3 linked regions of the Homo sapiens genome follow. The protein of the gene in region 1 purifies or fractionates together with the protein of each later gene. This does not show direct contact. Each region holds a gene or a part of one and is shown on either strand. Other genes may lie near its edges.

Region 1 (5,750 bases):
AATAAAATAGGATTCAATTGATGCCAACTTAAACACACCTGAGGAGGGGTGGAAAGCTGTCACCGTACAGGAAATCTTTGTCCTTCACATCTGTCTCTGGTTGCACGTGTAACAGCTTCCCCCACCTAGTGGCAAGGAAAGTGGTGGATTCCAACTGTGGAGGAAGGGTCGCCGGCATGCAGAGGGAGGGGTGCAGGGGGAGGGGTGCAGAGGGAGGGGCACAGAGGGAGGGGTGGAGGGGCGCAGAGGGAGGGGCGCAGAGGGAGGGGTGGAGGGGCGCAGAGGGAGGGGCACAGAGGGAGCGGTGCAGAGGGAGGGGTGCAGAGGGAGGGGCGCAGAGGGGGGGTGGAGGGGCGCAGGGGGGTGGAGGGGCGCAGGGGGGTGGAGGGGCGCAGGGGTAGGGGTGCAGAGGGAGGGGCACAGGGAGGGGCGCAGAGGGAGGGGTGGAGGGGCGCAGAGGGAGGGGTGCAGGGGCACAGAGGAAGGGGAGCAGAGGGAGGGGTGCATAAGGAGGGGCGCAGGGAGCCCCAAGTCCCCAGGGGCCCACCCGATGCTAACAATGTGCAGTGAGGAAAGCCAGAACGCACTTCGGTTCCATTCCATTTTATTACAGTCCTGTCCTTGAGTTCCAGAATGAATGGCTATTTAATACACAACCCCAAACACTCCTAAAATGGATCTTGTTAACATTCAAAAGTCTCCCATTTCTTTCTCAGTATATTAAATCAAAAGGAAAAAAAAATCTTAAAAAAAAAAAATCAATAGGTTTAGTTCACCCCAGGAAAAGCACCTTTACAACAGGAAACTAAATTGTCAGGAATCTGACCAAAGACACAAAGCAGCAGATAAGATTCCCGACAGAAGAGAGTGACTCCCACTGGAACATAAATAGATCCCCCCAAAGTATACATATTTCACATGAGTGTGTACATATACATGTCATATATTAAAAAAAATTGGTTTCTATACCCAAAAAGTTATTCAGAAATAAATCAACACCCCGAGACCGGGGATGTCGGGTGCCGCAGCCAGGTTACACATCGAGCTTGCACCTCGCTCTGTGCGGATGACCCCTCGGTGCACTGTGCACACTGGCCTGGAGGGGGCTGGATGGGGGCCTCTTTCCTGCCCCCCAATCCCCAGGCCTGGCAGATCCAGTGTTTGCAGAAAAGTGAGCCAGGGAAATCTAGGAAGGCAGGTGCCTGTGTGGTCCCCAAACCCCCTGGTGCAGAGCTCAGGAGCCAGCTGGAGGCTGGGGGCAAATGGCCAAGGCCACCGCCAGCTGCCCTGCAGGCTGCCCTGGGTCCTGGGGTAAAGGGAAGTGCTTGGGACCCCAGGAATGGAACAGCAGCACTCTCACTTTTTAACAGCAGGCCTGACTCTGGGGTCTGCCAGGCCCTGGAGACCTTTGTAGTATCGCCAGTCTGGGCTTCTCCTGGGATCCAGTGGCCTTGGGAGAGGGAGTGGGCTTTCTGACCCGCCAGGCCTGAGCCTCGTAAGCCTGTTGTGTGAGTGTGTGTGTGCTTAACGGAGCTCAACACATTGCAAATGAGTGTTCTACTGGGACATACTGGAGTAGTGTCTGCTTTGGGGGAAGTCAGTTTGTCATTGCATCCTAATTGGTCCCCATGCTGACGTGGATTATTTGTTCCAAAGATATCAGCTGCTGGAAGCGGCAGACACAGAAAACACGTTACACACCTGGAAGCGTAATCCTCTTGGGGCTTGGCACAGTGTTTCCATTCACAGAACAAACAGCAGAAATGCGTGGGAACCCCTTTCCTCATTCCAAACCCTCTCCTGGCACCGCAGGCAAGCAAGAGAAAAGGCCGTGAGAGTCGGAAGGCGCGTCAGTAGTTTTCAGGTTTGCGAGCTCAACCACGAGACAGTCACACACAGCCGTACTCATACCACACGGTCTGCGGATCCCCGCCGGGCTCCGGGGAGGCCGGACTGCTCTTTGAGACGCTCCCTCGACTGCAGTCCTCCAGGGCCCGGCCGAGGTGGGGAGCCAAATCGGGAGACCGACCTGGGCTCTTGGCCGGAAGCCCCTCACTGCAGCCCTGCCCCGGGACCCCGTCTCCCTCTGAGAGGCTGAGCCCTGCCCGGACAGGGGTGATGGTGGCCACCTCCCCTGAGCGTGGGGGCGCCTTGGGCTTGGTCCTGGCAGCCGGGGCTGCAGCAGGTGAGAAGTGCAGGAGCTGGGAGTTGCTGCCACTGCCAGCAGCAGCAGCACCAGCACCTGCAGTGGCAATGGCGGGGGCTGTGGCAGACTGATGCAGGGGGGCCAGCCTCTCCTCCTTTGGGGGAGCCAGGGAGAAGCGCCTCGTGTCCAGCGGCCGGCTGCGGGGACCTGGGCCCTGACAGGAGCTGCCAGCCTTTCCCACAAGTGGGGTCCGCTCCCGGGCCAGGCTATGGGAGCTGGGGGGTGCGGGGCTTTGCAGGGTGTGGCTGCCTGTCTCTCTGCCCCCTAAGGCCTCAGGAGCCCCCAGCTTCTGAGGGGACTCCTGTTTGCAGGCCTCTGGCCCGCTGGCCCGGAGAAGGTCAGCTGAGGCCAGGCTGAAGGCCCGGCTCAAGGAGGCACTGCGGCTGGCAGGTGCATGGGAAGCTGGGGGCACCGGAGCCTGCCGGGGTCTGCCCAGAGACAGGCTCTGGGGAGGCTGGGCCTGTCTCGGGGCCACGCTGGGTGGGGCCTCGGCCTCAGTCAGTCTGAAGTTTGGCTTTACGTACTGCCCGGGCTTCAGCGGCCTCCCCTCCGAGGTGGGGGCGGCCATTTTGACGGTGGGGGCCACAAAGTTGGTGGGCATCTTGGCCCCTTCTTTCTTGGCAGGTGGTCCTGGTTGGCCTCCGATGGCTGGGGGATCGCTGGCCTTTCGGAAGTAGTCACTCAGCAGGTCATCCCGGCAACTGGGAGTGTCCTACGGAGAAGAGAGTGAAGGTTGGAGGTGGGCATGAGGGTTGGGTGGGTCCTTGGAGCCGCCTCCTGCGCGGGACGCCCCCGAGCAGCCCACGTGGCTGGGACCGCAGTTCCTGCCTGCCTTCTCCGAGGCACATGTGCCGCCTCCACCACACACACCAGCCCTGGGCAGGATGGTGAGGGTGGCTAAGGCAGCATGGGACCACCAGGAAAGAACCCCAGATTCCCCCCAGGCAACCCCCTAACTTTACAGATAAGGAAACAGACCCAGAGAGGGAAATGACTTCCTACAAAGTGAGTAAGTTTCCCAGAAACCTCGACTATAGCCGACTGCTTCGGTCTGTCTGGTTTCCACCAAGCACAGCAGGAACTAGAATGCTGGCGGATATGAGCAGGGCCTTCCTTCCCCGGTCACCCCGGGACATCATAAGGACTTCACCTTGCGCCACCGAGAGCAAGAGGAACAAGAGCAGCTCTTGAAACGCCGGAACCTTCACTGCCACTCAGACCTCTCTCTGGGCCCGAGAAAGAGAAGAGAGAGGCAGAATGGGGATGGGAGGGGGTGGGGGACAGAGAGGTACAAATGGGGTCCGCGAGGGTCCAGAAGGGGGAATGGTGGGGCTGCACAGGGAAATGAAGACACCAGGAAGGCCCAGCCGCCACACTGTCCCTGCTAAGCTGCCGCCCGGGCTGTGCTTCCCCTGCCCAGGGAGCAGGTGTCATTTGCCACCACCTTGGGAATAGGCAGAGCCACAGAGGCAAGGGTCTATGGCCCCACTCAGGAACTGCAGCCTTCTGCAAGCCTAGCTTCTCCTGAGGCTGACATGGATGAAGAGGAAGAGAAGTGAGTTCATGGGGGATGAGAGGCCGGCAGGTGTCAGCCTGAAGGCGGGTTGGTAGCTCAGGAGCCATCTGCACCTGCCAGCAACTCCTGTCCCACACAAACATCTGGACATGGTGCCACTGGACAGAGATACATCTGCTGTTTTATGCTAGTTTGACGCTACACATCTTGGGTGGGCGTCCAGTAAGACCCGTGATATCACAGGTACCTTTCATCACCTGTGGGGCCATGTGCTGTTCTGGGAACCACATGTATAATTGCAAAGAAACTCATTTAATTCTCAAAATGACCTCGCAAGGTTGTTGAAAGGCTGTATCAAGGTAAAGAAACAGGTCACGGAGGTTTGGCAGGCCATGCGTCCAGAGAGGCAGACCCAGATGAAAGCCTATGGCTGCCTGACTCCAGAGCTGCTTTCCACTCCACCAGGCTCCTCCCTGCACACCTCAGAGCCTTTGATACCCACCCTTCCTGGCCACGCAGGGAGCCCCATCTTGTGACATGCCCTCCCTGCATCATCGACGCCCAGAGAGTGGGGGCGCGGTGGGCATACGGTTGTCATTTCCCTGGGATGGGAAGCCCCTGTGTACATTAGGGGCCTTGTGTGTCAGGGGTACCAGGAGGGAAGTCAGGTGTGTCAGGGGTAGGGGGTTAAATATACCAGGCAGACAGAGGGGGCTGGCTCGCTGCATGCCAGACATCAGCTTTCAACAGAAGCTGCTACAGCCAGACTGTTTTGGTCTCATTTAAGCTAAAAATGGAAAGGTAACAGTACAGGGCACAGGGAATGGGGACTGTGAAGACCAGTCTGAGCTGAGCAGGGAGGGGCCCCACTCCTTGCTCAGGACCTGCCTGCCAGATCTCCAAAGGGAAAGGAAAGCATCATAAGGGGCATATAACAAAAAAAGACTGAGAAGGAAAGCCTTCCAGCTGTGGGCCCCCCCAATTTCTGGAGTGTTCTTGTTCAGTCCATTAGACCAGCAGTTCTTTTTTTTTTTTTTGGAGACAGAGTCTCACTGTGTTGCCCAGGCTGGAGTGCAGTGGCACAATCTCGGTTCACTGCAACCTGAGCCTCTCGGGTTCAAGAGATTCTCCTGCCTCAACCTCCCGAGTAGCTGGGATCACAGGCACCCACCACCATGACCCGGTTCATTTTTGTATCTTTAGTAGAGATGGGGTTTCATTGTATCTTTAGTAGAGATGGGGTTTCACTATGTTGGCCAGGCTGGTCTCGAACGCCTGACCTCAAGTGATCCACCCAACTCAGCCTCCCAAAGTGCTGGAATGACAGGCATGAGCCACCGCTTGGCCTAGACCAGTGGTTCTTTTTTTTTTTTTTTTTTTTTGAGACGGAGTTTCGCTCTGTCGCCCAGGCTGGAGTGCAGTGGCGCGATCTCGACTCACTGCAAGCTCCGCCTCCCGGGTTCACGCCATTCTCCTGCCTCAGCCTCCCGTGTAGCTGGGACTACAGGCGCGCGCCACCACGCCCGGCTAATTTTTGTATTTTTAGTAGAGACGGGGTTTCACCGTGTTAGCCAGGATGGTCTCGATCTCCTGACCTCGTGATCCGCCCGTCTCGGCCTCCCGAAGTGCTGGGATTACAGGCGTGAGCCACCGCGCCCGGCCAGACCAGTGGTTCTTAAACCATGGTGCCTACCCAGCCGCAAGACCATTATCTGGAATTTATAAAGATGCAAATTCTCAGCGAGCCCAACCTCAGACCCATTGATTCAGAAACTCAGGGGATGGGTTCTGTGGTCTGGCAAGGCCCCCAGACGATTCAAACGCACGCCTGAGTTTGAGAACCACAACATTAGACCGCTAACTTCTCGAGGGCAGGCCCTCCTTTGTTTTTCTCCAGCTTTGGCTTCTCCAGCTCCTTGCACAGAGTAAGTGCTTGGGAAAGAGAAATGTTTAAATGAAGGAAGGCCAGGGCCATGTTTTATATTTCTCTCGTGTCAACTGCAAGGCTGGGCACAGCACATGCAGGCA
Region 2 (8,247 bases), on another chromosome or scaffold:
GCTTAGTGAATACATTTTTGTGCTGCTTTTTGGTCCATGTGACTGTGGTTTTGCAAGAGTTACGCTTGGGCATGTCCCAGACATAAGAACTTTCCTTCTTCCGGCAATTAAATACCCTGTGCCATTGGCAGCACAGCCTGCTGTGTCTCTCTTAGGGACAGTGTCCCCAGGTAGTATCCCCACACATCACCAGCCTCCATCACCACCTGCCTTGCATTGATCACAGAAACAAAGAAGTAATTCCATATCAAGAAAATAATCTTTCTCACATAGATACACATCTCTTTATTCTTCTTTCATCCCTTCTCATCTCCAACATTCCCCAGTTATTTAAGGAAACCTTTCTTCTATCTCAGCCTATTTCAGTCTACTTGTGAGTGCCTTCTGCACCCCCACCTCAAAAAAAGGCCTTTCTAATGTCTGTTATATGTAGAAATATTTCTAGTGACCGATCTAAAATAAGAAATAGGAAGGCCAAAAGTTTTGATGCAATAGGAGAGAAAATGAAGAACTAGGGGCACCCATCGTTCAAACCACCAAATATATTAATATATATTTTAGAAAAAATATTTTCTACTATTTTTGTTGCACATATATAATGTTAAGTGATTGGGGTTAAACAGGCTTTTTTTTTTTTTTTTTTTTAGACGGAGTTTCACTCTTGTCGCCTAGGCTGGAGTGCCGTGGTGCAATCTCTGCTCACTGCAACCTCCACCTCCCAGTTTCAAGCGATTTTCTCTCCTCAGCCTCCTGAGTAGCTGGGATTATAGGCATAGGCATGTGCCACCACGCCTGGCTAATTTTGTGTTTTTAGTAGAGATGGGGTTTCACTACATTGGCCAAGCTGGTCTTGAACTCCTGACCTCAGGTAATCCGCCTGCCTTGGCCTCCCAAAGTGCTGGGATTACAGGTGTGAGCCACTGCGCCCGGCCTAAACAGGCTTTTAGCAGGTTTGTCTTAGAATTGAGTATAGTTTGTAATTTTTTGTTTAGAGAAATATTTTCTAAGTTTTTATTTTGTTTTGTTTTGTTTTTTGAGACAGAGTCTTGCTCTTGTCGCCCAGACTAGGGTGCAATGGCATGATCTTGGCTCACTGCAACCTCCGCCTCCTGGGTTCAAGTGATTCTTCTGCCTCAGCCTCCCAAGTAGCTGGGATTACAGGTGTGTGCCACCACACCCGGCTAATTTTTGTATTTTTAATAAAGACGGGGTTTCACCGTGTTGGCCAGGCTTGAACTCCTGACCTCAGGTGATCCATCTGCCTCGGCCTCCCAAAGTGCTGAGATGACAGGCGTGAGCCACCACACCTGGCCTATTTTCTAAGTTTTTTAACAAATTAATTTTGAGACTGCTTCCTCTGTTTCAACAAAAATGCATTAAAAACCTACTGTGTGACAGGCTGTGGCTAGATCAAGATGAATAATACCAAAAAGTAACTCATTGGTTAGAGGGGAGAAGAAACGTGCACCAAGAGTTCCAGTACCAGAGCTTGCTGCTCAGTGAAGCTGCAGGATGCCTGTGTGGCCCCAGGAGGGAGGGACGTGCTGCTGTGGCTGGGAAGGGAAGGGGGGCAAATCTGCCGGCATAGTCCCTACCCAGAGCAACTAGGTGATGGGGTTTTGTCAGATCTCTTCTGTTAGTCACCTGTGACCCCGCAAGCCTTTCCAAGTGGTAGGTCACCAGATTCTGCTGCATGCACTGGGTTTCTACTCAACTGGATTTAGAGTTCAAACATCTTTGGCATAAAAAAGAAATACATAAAGACAACCCTTAAGGGTTCACAATAAAAACTGATTTACTCCCTCCTATCTATAGATTACAAATTGAACACCCTGTAACCATGGCTAAAATTGCCATGATTACTCGGCACACAGTTAAGGCTGGGCGCAGTGGCTCGTGACTGTAATCCCAGTGCTTTGTGGGGCTGAGGCAGAAGGATTATTTGAAGCCAGGAGTTCAAAACAAGCCTGGGAAATATAGTGAGATCCTGTCTCTACAAAAAAATAAAAATAAAAAATTAGCTGGGCATGGTGACACTCACCTGTGGTCCCAGCTATTCGGGAGGCTGAGGCAGGAGGATCATTTGAGCCTGAGAGATCAAGCTTGCAGTGAGCCATGTTCACGACACTGCACTCGAGCCTGAGTGACAGAGTGAGACCCTGTCTCAAAAAAGACCCCCCCCCACACACAATTAAACATAATATTGAATATGACAACTAGCTAGAATATTTCGTGGAATTAAAAAGAAATGCTAACTGGCCGGGCATGGTTGCTCATGCTTATAATCCCAGCACTTTGGGAGGTCAGGAGTTTGAGACCAGCCTGGCCAACATGGCAAAACCCCATGTCTACTAAAAATACAGAAATTAGCCTGGAGTGGTAGTGCATGCCTGTAGTCCCAGCCACTTGGGAGCCTGAGGCAGGAGAGTCACTTGAATCCAGGAGGCAGAGGTTGCAGTGAGCCAAGATCACACATACTGCACTCCAGCCTGGGAGACCAAAAAAAAAAAAAAAAGAAGAAAAGAAATACTAACCTTGGCAAGGTCTAGAACTGTTGTATTAATTTTGAAACATGGGAGTAAATATAGACACACTGATGGTGGCTTTGACTTTCTGCTCCCCCAGGCTCCTCAGTGGTTGGAAAGTGATTCTTGTCAGAAATGTGAGCAGCCATTTTTCTGGAACATAAAGCAGATGTGGGACACCAAGACGCTGGGGCTAAGACAAGTGAGTAGCCACTGTCGAGTCATCTCTGGCTTGATTGTGTATTTCACTATTTGCATACTTAATCTGGGGTTTTTTTGAAACACACTTTGTTTTTGCAAATGCTATTAATTCCTACATTTTCTATGTCTTTATCATTGTGTGACTAACAATGAGGAAGACCTTTCCCAGGGCCAGTGAGACTGTTACCTCACTTTTCCATTGCTTGTCCTGTATTGGAAAGGCAGGGGTGCGTAGAAAATCCTGAGAGCCTATTTTTAAACAGATAAAAGATCTTTCAGTTTAAGACTATTACTTATTAAAGTCAGTGTTTTATGCTAGCCAAGAACAAAATTAGAATAAAGTCATACAGTTATATACCTTATGCTGTCACAAACAGATAAAAAGTAATAATTTAGTCCTCACTTGAATGCCTGACCCTATGAGTTTTAGATTATTTTAAATTGTTCCCTTATAAGCATACCTGGAATATTTTTATTAAGCATGTTTTGAGTACTGTTTTTTAAATTTTTTAATTAAAGAAATATGTTCCAAATAGCCTGTAGATTTTAAAGGTGCTGTTAAAGGATTCTTGTAATACTAAAGTTCTACAAAAAAAAAAAAAAGCAGGTAAGTAAAAAAGAATGCTGATTTTATTCCTTTTATTATTGGTTGCATCTCTATGAGCGATTAGCCTAAAGTTTGTATGTGTTAATAAACTTTTTTGGCCCTGCATGGTGGCTCAGGCCTGTAATCCCTGCACTTTGGGAGGCCGAGGCAGGTGGATCACCCGAGGTCAGGAGTTTGAGACCAGCCTGGCTAACATGGCGAAACCCTGTCTCTCCTAAAAATACAAAAATTAGCTGGGTGTGGTGGCGGACGCCTGTAATCCCAGCTACTCGGGAGGCTGAGGCAGGAGAATCACTTGAACCCAGGAAGCGGAGGTTGCGGTGAGCCAAGATCACGCCACTGCACTCCAGCCTAAGTGACAGAGCGAGACTCCATCTCAAAAAATAAATTAATTAATAAATAAAATCTAAAAAATTTTACTCAGAGATACTCCACAGTAAGGTCTCATATGAGACTGGCAGGCAAGAAGGGAATTATTAGTGCTCAGACCATTATAAAGCTCTGAAATAGCACCTGAGTTCTGTCTGTCATTAGCCAAGTTCTCACAATGCATGGCTGATGGTAATTAGTGCAGTATAATTAATAGGTGAAGTATTCCCTACTTCTAAAGGAAACACAGAGAAATGGATTTTACTTCCATTTATTAACAGTTAACAGAAGAGAGAAGAGGTGCTGGTCACTAAACTTTTGGCGGTAAAAGAATATGTCAAAATCAGTAATAATAATTGGACTATTTTGTAATGTTCTTGAGGCTTATTTCCAGAATCACAGTTTGAGAGATTTTAGAAAATAGCAAAATACATGATTATGGGCATTAGTTTCTTAATGAGAGCATAGTGCATTTAAAACTTATTTTAGACCGGGTATGATGGCTTATGCCTGTAATCCCAGCATTTTGGGAGGCCAATGTGGAAGGGTGGCTTAAGCCCAGGAGTTTGAAACCAGCCTGAGCAACATGATGAGACCCCGTCTCTATAAAAATAAATAAATAAAACTTATTTTAAAACCCTTTAGGCTGGGCATGGTGGCTCACACCTGTAATCCTAGCACTTTGGGAGGCCGAGGCAGGAGGATCACTTGAGCCTAGGTGTTCAAGACCAGCCTGGACAACATAGCAAGACCCTGTCTCTGCAAAAAAATCAAAAAATTAGCCAGACATGGTGGCAGACACGTGTAGTGCCAGCTACTTGGAAGGCTGAGGTGGGAGGATCGCTTGAGTCTGGGAGGTCAAGGCCGCAGTGAGCTGTATGCCATTGCACCTTTGCATTCCAGTCTAGGTGACAGAATGAGACCCTGTCTCTGAAAAAAAAAATAATAATAATGCCTTTTTTATGATGGAGGAATAAATTTTTCTTTCCCTAAATCTACAGTGATTAGGCTCCTAAATGAACTAAATTTGTTGTTAATAATATTGTTTGTTAACATGTAGACAGATAATATGAATGAATGAAAAGCAACATTTGACCAGTACAGCAAAGTTTTTTGGAAATCCTTGACTAGTGTCAGAATTGTCTATCTTGTGAGTGTTAATTGATACATTGAATTGGGGTGATTGCAATTCAAGGCATATCCTCCCCGCTCCTGTTGCCCTACTTTAGAGGGAAACCATGTGCTTTAAAGCAAAAGCTAGGCCAGGCGCAGTGGCTCACGCCTGTAATCCCAGCACTTTGGGAGGCTGAGGCAGGTGGATCATGAGGTCAGGAGTTCGAGACCAGCCTGACCAAGATGGTGAAATCCCATCTCTACTAAAAATACAAAAATTAGTCAGGCGTGGTGACAGGCACCTGTAATCCCAGCTACTTGGGAGGCTGAGGCAGGAGAATTGGTAGAACCCGGGCGCCAGAGGTTGCAGTGAGCCGAGATCACGCCACTGCACTCCAGCCTGGGTGACAGAGTGAGACTCTGTCTCAAAACAAAACAAAAAGCGAAAGCTAACACCCTGTTTTCCTCCTCCCGGTCACCTGTGAAGCATCACTGCAGGAAATGCGGGCAGGCTGTCTGCGGGAAGTGCAGCAGCAAGCGCTCAAGTTACCCAGTCATGGGCTTCGAGTTCCAAGTCCGGGTTTGTGATTCTTGTTACGACTCCATCAAAGATGAAGAGTGAGTGTTTGCATATTTTTGTCTCATTGCCTCTTATTACATCTGTCTAATGGTTCTCTGAAATGTGAAGAGCTTCAGAAGTGATAGGATATGTTTAGCCATGTGTTTGTTTCTCCTGAATTTCCTAAGCCATTTTATTTGTTGTTTGTTTTTTGAGACAGAGTCTTGCTCTGTCACCCATGCTGGAGTGCAGTGGCGTGATCTCGGCCCACTGCAACCTCTGCCTCCCGGGTTCAAGCGATTCTCCTGCCTCAGCCACCCGAGTAGCTGGGATTACAGGCGCCCCCCACCACCTGGCTAATTTTTGTAGTTTTAGTAGAGATGGAGTTTCACCATGTTGGCCAGGCTGGTCTCGAACTCCTGACCTCAAGTGATCTACCCACCTTGGCCTCTCAAAGTGCCAGGATTACAGGCGCGAGCCACCGTGCCTGGCCCCTAAGCCATTTTTGAAGAGAGGACCTGCCCTAGCTTTATGACTTAAGACCATGACTATGCATCTTAAGTTGCCCCTCTGACTGGGCAGCTTTCTCCTGAACACAGTGAGGAATGCTAAGTTACATGGTCCAGTAACTGAGTGGATACCCTGAGCCTCTGCATCCCACTGGCTGCTATGCAGGGATAAGTCCATGCACCTGTGGATGGCAGTGGTTGAGCTGGTTCTCTATAAAAGTATCCAGTGCCCAGACCTTTGTTCACACATGCATGTAAATTTACTGGGAAAACTCTAGAGACCAATGTTCTTTCTTCCACAGAAATCTGGCCTAGCAGTCTATTCTTAAATTGCTCTTTGTGTGTAAGACACATCTGTTTGATACCCCACTCTGCCCTGACTTTTAGGCAAATCCGTTAGGACAGAACCACTATTTTCTTTCCTTCCCTTTGAATCATCTTTTAAAGCAGCAGAGGCAAATGTTGGCAGAGGTCCACATTGGAAAGCTAGTGCATCACGACTGGTGTTGGTAAATGAACTAGTGATGGGATTGGGGCAGCTGGGCTTTGAAGCGGGTGCTGTAAGAGGCACTGCTCCTGTGCATGGCAGAGGTTTCAGGGAAAACGGCAGCTCTCTGATGTTTTGCCCATGCTGTATGATTTTATTCAATGCAGTTCTTCTTTTATATTGAAGATTCTTGTTTTTATATCTAGGAATGTATCAGCCTTTCCAGTAAAAAAAAAAAATCAGTTATTTTGGGAATTTTATAAAACAATCTTGTGATTTAACATGCTTTCTGTCATCATTAAATTATAAGGTTAGTTTTCAAAACCATAGCCACAATTTTAGGAGCAAATTTTAACACTATTATCATAAGCATTTACTTTTTTTTTTTTTTTTTTTTTGAGACTGAGTCTTGGTTGATCACCTGGGCTGGAGTGCAGTGGTACAATCTCGGCTCACTGCAGCCCCCACCTCCCAGGTTCAAGCGATTCTCCTGCCTCAGCCTCCCGAGTAGCTGGGATTACAGGCGTGTGCCACCACACAGAGCTAATTTTTATATTTTTAGTAGAGACGGGGTTTCACCATGTTGACCAGGCTGGTCTTGAACCCCTGACCTCAAGTGATCCACCCGTCTCGGCCTCCCAAAGTGCTGGGGGTACAGACATGAGCCACTGCACCTGGCCATATTTGCTTATTTTATGTTGCTAAAAAAGCTTACCCCACTAGCTCTAGGTACAGTCAAGTAAATTTTCAGTGATCTCTTTTCTCTTGTTAGTCGGACTTCTCTAGCGACCTTTCATGAAGGAAAACATAACATTTCCCACATGTCCATGGACATTGCCAGGGGACTGATGGTGACCTGTGGGACCGACCGCATTGTAAAGGTAAGCTGGCTAATTGTCTGTCAGCATCTCAGTTGAGATTGCCTATTACCATGCTGTGAATGTGCAGGAGACAGTCACTCTTTCTGACTGGCAAGCTTTATAAGCAAATGATTGCCAGTTTAAAACCTTGAGTAACAAATTGCTTGCCTCTGAGTTTCCATGCATTCATTGGTGGTCAGTCCCAGTGGCACCTCCCTCTGCAGTGTCTGTCTGGCAGAGTGAGTCTGGCACCCTGTATATCCCTATGGGTGGAGTTGACCTCTGGGTTCTCCCTTGCTGGCCTGGGTCCTCACCCCTGACCCATCTCAAGACATTCCTACGCTTGCCAATGTTCCTTTTCATCCTGGGCAGAATGCGTCCTCAGTATAAGGAATAACCACACATTTTAACAATTAAATCCCTGGGTCACTAACACATAAATTGAAATGAAGTGTTTTATACTTAGTACCACTCTTTTTTTTTTTTGAGATGGGTCTTGCTCTGTTGTCCAGGCTGGAGTGCAGTGGCACAGTCACTACTCACTGCGGCCTTCACCTTCCAGGCTCAAGCAATCTTCCCACCTCAGCCTTCCAAAGTAGCTAGAACTACAAGTGCCTGCCACCAGGCTTGGCTAATTTTGGGGGGATTTTTCATAGAGATTGGGTCCTACTATGTTGCCCAGGCTGGTCTCAAACTCCTCGGCTCAAGCGATCCTCCCATCTCAGGCTCCCAAAGTACTGGGATTATAGGCATGATCCACCATGCATGGCCTAAGTACCACTCTTCAGTGGTGAAACTGAGATATTCTATATTCCTGATGGGCTTTTCTAAAAAAAAAATTGAATTTATACTAAAACATTATTATGATTTAATTTTTATGTGTAAAGACACTACCTATATGCTTTATTCACATTTTAGTGAACTACATTGTTTTATCTTTCTGAAAATCTTTTTGTTTGAGACAAGGTCTCGCTCTGTCACCCAGACTGTAGTGTAGTGGTGTGACCTCGGTTCAGT
Region 3 (8,538 bases), on another chromosome or scaffold:
ATAAACTACTCAAGATTCCTCCATGTTGTAATGTGTGTCAGAATTTTCTTCCTTTTTAAGTCTGAATAATACTCCAGAATATTGACTTTTTAAAGATGTTTTTACTTTGCAAAATAAGAAAATGAGAATCTAATATCAGTTACTGGAATGCTGTTGAAATTGCCCTGGCCTATGAAATCAGAACATCTTGTTACCACTGGACAACAGAGTGAAACCCACAGTCTGCACCCCATGTTGTGGCCTCGTGACCCCTGACTTTGCCAGCTTCTCTCCTGCAGCTGCAATGCTTTCTCCTGATTCCTCAAAAACAACCCACATCCCCACCTCCATGCACCAATGCATCATTCTTACATTCTCTCCAACTGGAACGTTTCTTATTTTTTGCTGGTTAAAGTCATCACAGTCTTACTGGGCCTTATCTCCCAGGTGAAGCCTGAAGTACCCAGACCCGCTTTCTTCATGTCTCACCTCTGTGATGGTTCACATCCCCTCCCACCTTTCATATCTGCCACCTGTGCATTCATCTCCCCCATAGAGGTGCGAGCACCTGGAGTAGAGACACCGTCCCTGCCTCCTCTTTGCTCATTTATTCCTTTACAGTGAGTTTCTGGGGGCCATGTGCCAGCCAGGTGCTGGCACCAGCCAGTTTGCATGGGGGTGCAAACACGCAACACCCCCAGGTTAGATTTGGCATGGGGCTGGAGAGGACCTGGCAGGAGCAGGGCTGTAAGCTCTGTGGCCCAGAAGCATTCCATCTATGTCTGCAGGTCATCAGGTGGGCTCTGGTGTGTGGCACAGAGCTCTGTTAAGTCTCATCCCTACCTTCGCCTCTACATGAAAAATTGCATGCAGGCCCTTTAAAGGGGGAAATATGGAGAAAACCATTTTGAATTCTTGGTTCCCACTGGGGAGAGGTTCTAAGGGGTGGGGATCAGGTGACATCATGAGTAACTCACGAGGCAGGGTAGAAGCATCTGAACGAGGCATCCTAGGAGATAAAGAGAAACACTGGCTCCAAAATTAAAACAAAACAAAACAAAACAAAAACAAGCCCAGGTCACTTGGCCTCCCCGCTTTGATTTCCCACAGGCTATGACCTTCAAGTTAATGTTTCCTTTGCAGCGTACACACAGTCCCAGTTACTGATTCCCCAAAAACAAGCTGAATCATCATTATACAACAGAAAGAGAACCCATGTCTATCCCATCCCCCATTCACAGAGCCCTGAGCCAGGCTTGTCTCCTAATCTGCCTCTGGATTGGAGCAGTAGCCCCCATTGTTCTACCCAGACTTGGGCTGTGTAAGTGCACACTGCTTTCCCTGGGAGGACTTAGCCACCAGGGCCCTGCGGAAAGCCCGGGCAGAGGCTCTCTCTGCAGGGCTTATCCAGCCACTGTCACTGCAGGTGCCTCTCCTGGATCAGGGCCTGTGCAGGGCTGTGGGATACACAGATGAAACAGGCCCTGTCCCTGCCCTCAGAGGTGTTGCAGTTGATAAAGAGACAGACACACATATAAATAGTTGCATTAGAGTGTGGTCTGTGCTGTGAGTGAGGGAATTCCCAAGGAGAAGGTTGGGGTCAGGCTTCCCAAAGGAGATGATGCACAAGCCCATCCCTGGGGCACAGGCAGGGCTCAGCTGGTGGCTTCAAGAAGCAGGGCATTCCCGGCACAGTGAACTGAACTGGCAAAAGAGGGTTTCAGTGGGACTCGTTCAGAGAGTATCATATAGTCCTGGGACAGGGACAAGCTGGCTTCTGCCACTGTCTGACCTCAAGCCTCAGCTTCTCTCTCTGGTCTATGAAAGGATGGATTCGGAAATCACACAGTTACTTCCACCATCTTTCATGTGTTAAAAGGAAGTCACTACGTTCAGCCTACATTCAAAGGCAGGGGAATTAAGTGCCACTCCTTGAATGGAAGAGCATCAGAGAGTTTTAAAATGACCACAGTCCACCTACTGGCCACAAACTACTTACATCCTTCCACATGCAAAATACATTCGCCCTCCAAACATCCCCTCAAAGCCTCATCCCACTGTAGAATCAGCTCAATATCCAGAATCTCTGCATCTAAATCAGGCTTTGATGTGGGTGAAGCACCTGGGGTATTATTCCCTCAAGTGTAGCTCCTTGAGTAGAGTTGCTCTCAATCTACAGACTTAGGAATTCCAGAGACAAATTAACTGCGCCTCCCCCCTGCACCCACCTGACATAAACTGGTGGGATAGGCATTGGATAACCACTGTAGACGTGCCTGCTCCAAAGGGAACAAGGACAGGAGGCATGCAGGAGTAACTAGTGTACGGCAATTCTAAAATCTTCCTGGGCGGGTCCTGAAAGTCTCTTGAATAGGACTCAGTCTGACTCTGGCCCCAGAGTGATTCTCCACGCTCTTGGCTCCACCCTTTGGGTTCTTTGTTCTATTCCCCAAGTCATCCCTTCTTTTCCATGAAATGCAGCCCAGGTTCATATCCGTATAGTTTCTCAGCTTGCTTCCTCCCAGAATTTGGGGGAGTCTAGAGGTCTCTTTTCATTTTATATTGTCTCTGACCCTTTCAGTCCAAGTCTACACTGTTTTGCTCATATAATTCTTTTAAAAATGTTGCATGTCTCCTGTAGATCTCACTGAGGTTCATGCCTTTAGACAACTGTCAAACCCACACATCTCTTTGAGAAAAGCCCTTCTCTCTCTTGGGCTTCTGCTGAGACTGCTGTCAAGGACAACTGTAAGCTTCTTAGAAATCCTACTATTTAACAAAATATTCTGAGGTGTCCCTTTGTTCTCTTTGAAGATTTTACAAAAGATCTCATGACCACACTCTTGGCTTCATCTTTAGGCCATCTTCCTTGCACTGGCCTGCATTTGCTCTTTGCCTGGAAGCCATTTGTTAGTTTTAGCATCATATGACATCTGGAGAAGCTGGACATTTTCACAGCCCAAGTTATGGTTCCTTTTTATTTAACAATCCTTCCTTTGGCTTATGTCCCTTCTCTCACATTTTAGTATAAGCAGCAAGAAGAAGCCAGGAGGAGGCACCTTCAACAATCTCCTTAATGAGATCCCCCAGTTCATCTGGTACATTTTCTACTTTCCACATGATTTCGGAACACTTTCTGCTTAAAATTCCCTCCTCTCCTGCTCCATACCTCTAAGAGTATGGATTCCTCTCTGATTTCCTAATACATCTTTTTGGGGTGTCTAACCTCCAAGCCATTGTTCAGTGGTTCCTGTCGCCCATCTGCCTTCTCAATTTTAACTCCCAAGTTCAGAACACACCACTTTCCCATTGCAGGCCCCTAACACTCAGCCAGTTTTCCTACAGATTATATGGCACACCTTCCACACACAGGGCATGCATTCAGCCCTGGGGACTTCCCAGGAGAATAAGCTAGTCTTCGCCATCATTGTCCAGAGACATGTTAATCAAGCAATCCCAGAAGCAGTGATAAAATTGCAGTTGAAGGCAGGGTGCAGTGGCTCATGCCTGTAATCTCAGCACTTTGGGAGGCTGAGGTAGGTGGATCATCTGACGTCAGGAGTTTGAGACCAGCCTGGCCAACATGGTGAAACCCCGGTGAAACGTCTACTAAAAATACAAAAATTAGCTGGGTGTGGTGGCGCATGCCTGTAATCCCAGCTACTCAGGAGGCTAAGGCAGGAGAATCGCTTGAACCTAGGAGGTGGAGGGTCCATTGAGCTGAGATTGCACCATTGGACTCTAGCCTGGGTGACAGAGTGAGACTCTACCTCAAAAAAAAATAAATAAATAAAGTTGAGAGAGGTTCATGAAGAAAAATTACAGGCCTCTCTGTGATCACATAATGGAGGAATCTGTCCTAGTAAGGCTGAGGCTAGGGAAAGCTTCCCTGAAGTCATGGCATTTTAGTAGGAACTTCCTGAAGAATGATGGGGGTTCTCTGGACAAAGATGAACGGCACATGGAAACTTTATGAGTCGAGAAGTTCCACAGATATGAGGGACAGCAGGGAGACCTGCAGGCTGGAGCCTAAAGAACAAGGGGACAGTGCCTGAAAGTAGGCTAAGTGGATCAGCAGGCACAGGCCACCTCAATCCTGGGTGCCCATACTGGCTTATGTGAGCAAAATACATGCATTAAGCCATTCAACAAACATTTATTTAGCAACTGCTACAAGCCATCACTGTGTATTGGGGATACAACAGTGAATACATCTCACAAATTTCCTGTCCTCAAAGAGCTTACAGTCTAGTGGGAGAGACAGACAATGAACAAACAAAGAAACAAGGAAATATCAGATATACAGTTAAGTGCTGTGAAGGAAATAGAACAGGGTGATGTGGCAGGGAGTGGCTGAGGGACTTCCTTAGTTTGTGTGACCTGGAACAGCCTCTCTAAGGCTCTGCATCAGATATCTGATATGTGATACCATATGGGAGCAGGCTCTGAAAGAACACTACAAGTAGAGAGGTAAAGGCAGGGGCTGCAGCAAGCCTGATGTGTTCAGGCACTGAGCAGAGAGAGGGCCAGGTGGTCGGGACTTAGCGAGAGGGTCGCCTCAAAAGAAGTGAGGCTTAGCAGGGCACGGAGCAGTGCGGCCGCAGGTGTGGTGGGAAGGGTGTTCCAGGAGAAGGAGCCACCTGGACACAGGCTTGCAGTCATGAAACAATACGCAATTATCACTCCCGGCATTCTACATGGCCTTGCCTGAGACCGGGCTGGCCAGGATCTCTGGGAACCAGGAGGAGGGGTCTGCGGCACCAGGACTGAGTAGAAGGGAGAGAGTGGAGAAGGGGAATTGCAGAGAGAAAACCAGGGGCTGTTTTTCTCTCGGAGAGGCGGGTAGGCACTGGGCGGGCAGAAGCGCCGCTATCCACCCGGATGCGCAGCTGCTAAGGGGCCGCCTCTGCAAGCGGCTGCAAATTCCCGGAGGGCAGCGTCTCCTTTCGCTCTGCTGTGTCCGTAGCACATGGCAGGTACTTGGCCCATCAAGAGTGAGAGAGGGTGAGCGAGTGAGTGAGTCACCGGCTTGGCGAGGGTCTCCTCTGACCCACTTAGCCTTGCCAGCGCTCAGAACTGCCAGCCCTGCTGGGTGCTTGGGACTTTTCAAAGCCCTGGGAATTCTCCAAGGGTCCACAGTAAGTCTTCTTGACCTAAGCGGGAAAGAGCGCAGGCCCCTGCGGGGTTGGCTTTTACATGGCATTTATAGACCCGCCCGGAGAGGGTGCGCTGCGCTCCCGCCATAGTCCCACCACCGGTGAGCGCCGCCCCCACTCGGCTGACTCTCCGCCCGCCCCGCGCCCCTCCCCTCACGGGCTCTGGCCTTAACCAGAGCTCGCGGACTGGCGGGGACAGGTCCCACCTCCTGGCTCCCAGGACGGGTCTGCACCAACCTCAGTTTCGGGGCTGCGGCTCACAGAAGTCTAACCTGCCCGGGACGCCCGCACCAACTCCTGCGCGCGGTGAGTTTCTGGGCTCTCGAGAGCGCTGGACTCCCGGCGGAAAGGAGGCTGCCCCGGCTGCAGCTCCGGGGGCTCCGGGGGCTCCAGGGGCTCCAGGACTCGGTTCTCACCGCAAGGGCTCCTGCGGGGCCCATCAACTTCGCCGCTGGGACGCCGGGCTCGGGGTACGGGTCCGGAGTTCTTTGGAGCAATTGAGGCTGAACCTGGCCAGGGGTCATCAGGCTAAATGACCGCAGCGCCAGGACTGGCCCGCCGAGGATCTGGCCGGCCGCGGTGGTAGGGCCCTTACGGAGCTGGCGCCAACCTGTGGGGTGGGCACTGCTGGCCCGGCTTATGGAAGAGAAAACTGAGGCTCGATAAGAGAAAGGGACCAGCGAAGGCGACGCGATGATTTGTGACTGGGGACTACCTGTTTCCTGGGCCCCTCGACCCCATTCTGTGACAGGGAAAGGTCTTCCCTGATTGGCCAAATCTGGGGGCCTGGCACGAGGGCCTCTTGTGATTGGAGGGGTCGACGTGAGCGCTCAGGGGCTGCGCTGGAGTCCCAGCTCCAGCCACTGCGCTCAAGTGGACGGTCGCGCGTGCAGAGGGAGGCCGGATAGCAGACCCCACAACGTGGCTCCTGGGGCCCCGCTATCGAGAGCTCAGGCCCCGCGGGCACTTGCCTAGGAGAGGAAAGAATCTTCCCAAAGTGCAGACAGAGACGGAATTTAATCAGGAGTCCCAGACTTGGAGTTTGGAGGCATGGGCTCTGGTGTCAGGTGACTTTGTTTCCTCCCCACGCCTCCACTTCTCCTTGACCTTGGGCAAGTTTCTTGTGTTCTGAATCTTAGTTTCTTGTCTCTAAAATCGGGAGGGGCAATGAACAGTAGTGCCTGCCTCCCAAGATTGCTTGAGAATTACATGAGACTGCCCCGCGCCTGGCCCTAGGAAACCCTCGGAGAATGTTGGCTGCTGTTTGTTTGTTTGTTTGTTTGAGACAGAGTCTCGCTCTGTCGCCCAGGCTGGAGTGCAGTGGCACGATCTCGGCTCACTGCAACCTCCGCCTCCCGGGTTCAAGTGATTCTCCCGCCTCAGCCTCCCGAGTGCTAGAACTGCATTCATGGGCCCCAGGGCCCTAGCACCAGAACAGAGGGCCCAGAGCTGCAGTCCTGCAGGGTGGCCCAGCCTCACAGGGACTAGAAGCTGGGTCCTGGAGAGCCAAGCCTGGGCTGGGAATTGGGTAGGAGGGTTGGGAGGCCCAGGAAGCCTCCCAGTGTCCCCACACCACCAAGTGAAAGGACACTGAGCGGCCATGACTGGGGGAGGAGGTGGAGGCCTGGAGGCGGCCCATACGGCCCACAAGGGGCTCTATGGGCTTCACTGCAGGCCCCTGCTCTTTCTGGGGCCAAAGGGCAAGCCTGATTGAGGCCCCTCCCAAGGCTCCCGTGCCTGCCATTCTGGCTTTCCCTGGACTGTGACAACAGCCCCTTGGTGGCCACCTGGACTCTGCCTCCCTGCAGGGGGGGAACGACATACTCTTTTATTTTTTTTTTTCAGAAGTAATCATGTACAATATAAAAAAAGAACATTCAGTTAAGAAAACAAAATAATTACAGTCGTCAAAAACCTCTGAAACCCAAAACCCTTTACCCAGTAACTTTCAACATTTCAGTGTAAATTCTTCTAGGCTTTTACCCTGCAGATAAACACACGCATGCACACACAGACACACACACACACACACACAAACTTAAGCCTTACACAATTATCGTGGTTTGTTACTTGTTGGGTGTTTTGACAGTGTCAGGTTTGTATAACTCAATATTTACCAATATTTTCTAATAATTTAATGTTTTCTTCTTATATTTGATTTTCAAGTATTTATTTTTAACCCAATTGGACTGTATTTTAGAGTAAGATGTGAACTATAGAGCTAGATTCATTTATTTATTTCAATTAGTAGACATTTTTAGAGCAGTTTTAGGTTTACAGAAGAATTGAGGACGGAGTGCAGAGTTCCCATATTCTCAGTCTGTCCCTTCCTGCGCGCTTTCTCCTATTTTTCTTTCTATTCTTTTCCTTTCTTTTTTTTTTTTTCTTTTTTTTTTTTTTTGAGACAGGGTCTCACTTTGTTGCCCAGGCTGGAGTGCAGTGGCACAAACACAGCTTACTGCAGCTTTGAACTCCTGGGCTCAAGTGATTCTCATGCCTCAGCCTCCCAAGTAGCTGGGACTACAGGCATGCACAACCACGCCTGGCTAATTTAAAAATTTTTTTGTAGAGATGGGTCTCACTTTGTTGCCCAAGCTGGCCTTGAACTCAAGGGCTCAAGTGATCCTCTGCCTTGGCCTCCCAAAGTGCTGGGATTACAGGCATGAACCACTAGGCCTGGCCTCCCCTATTTTTAACATCATGCATTGATAGGATATTTTTGTTACAGCTTTTTTCTTTTTGAAACAGTCTTGCTCTGTTGCCTAGGCTGGAGTGCAGTGGCACAATCTCAGCTCACTACAGTTTCTGCCTCCCAGGTTCAAGCAATTCTTGGGCCTCAGCCTCTCGAGTAGCTGGGATTACAGGTGCACCACCATGCCCAGCTAATTATTGTATTTTTATAATAGTAGAGACAGGGTTTTACCATGTTAGCCAGGCTGCTTTTGAACTCCTGGCCTCAAGTGATCAGCCCGCCTTGGCCTCCCAAAGTGCTGGGATTACAGGTGTGAGCCACCAGGCCTGGCCAATTTTGTTATACTTGGTGAGCCAATATCGATGCAATGTTATTAATGAAAGTCCATAATTTACATTAGAATTCCCTCTTGGTGTTGTACCTTCTATGGTTTTGGACAAACATATAATGATGAGTATCCAGTGTTACAGTATCATAGAGAATAGTTTCACTGCCCTAAAACTCTCCTGTGCTCTACCCATCCACCCCCCAACCCCCCTACCTATCCCTGGCAACCACTGGTTACTGCCTTTGTAGTTTTGCCTTTTCCAGAATGTCATATAGTATGTATGAATCATATGGTATATAGCCTTTCCAGACTGGCTTCTTTCGCTTAGCAAAATGCATTTAAGCATCCTCCATGTCTTTCTGTGACTTGGTAACCCATTTCTT

Evidence for each region. The genes of interacting proteins can lie anywhere in the genome.
Region 2: the proteins of CCDC88C (region 1) and WDFY1 purify together in Homo sapiens (affinity purification with mass spectrometry; 2 studies listed by BioGRID and IntAct, with this or other methods). This does not show direct contact.
Region 3: the proteins of CCDC88C (region 1) and ALDH1L1 purify together in Homo sapiens (affinity purification with mass spectrometry; 2 studies listed by BioGRID and IntAct, with this or other methods). This does not show direct contact.

The regions. Positions count from the first base shown.
Region 1 is NC_000014.9:91,270,736-91,276,485, forward strand, and holds the end of CCDC88C (protein Daple), read right to left. Parts: intron 2,919-5,750; coding exon 1,890-2,918; 3' UTR 588-1,889; downstream 1-587. UniProt on the Homo sapiens protein: Required for activation of guanine nucleotide-binding proteins (G-proteins) during non-canonical Wnt signaling. Binds to ligand-activated Wnt receptor FZD7, displacing DVL1 from the FZD7 receptor and leading to inhibition of canonical Wnt signaling.
Region 2 is NC_000002.12:223,879,128-223,887,374, reverse strand, and holds part of WDFY1 (WD repeat and FYVE domain-containing protein 1), read left to right. Parts: intron 1-2,625; coding exon 2,626-2,727; intron 2,728-5,302; coding exon 5,303-5,433; intron 5,434-7,142; coding exon 7,143-7,251; intron 7,252-8,247. UniProt on the Homo sapiens protein: Positively regulates TLR3- and TLR4-mediated signaling pathways by bridging the interaction between TLR3 or TLR4 and TICAM1.
Region 3 is NC_000003.12:126,177,379-126,185,916, reverse strand, and holds the start of ALDH1L1 (cytosolic 10-formyltetrahydrofolate dehydrogenase), read left to right. Parts: upstream 1-5,330; 5' UTR 5,331-5,441; exon of another isoform or gene 5,442-5,852; intron 5,853-8,538. UniProt on the Homo sapiens protein: Cytosolic 10-formyltetrahydrofolate dehydrogenase that catalyzes the NADP(+)-dependent conversion of 10-formyltetrahydrofolate to tetrahydrofolate and carbon dioxide.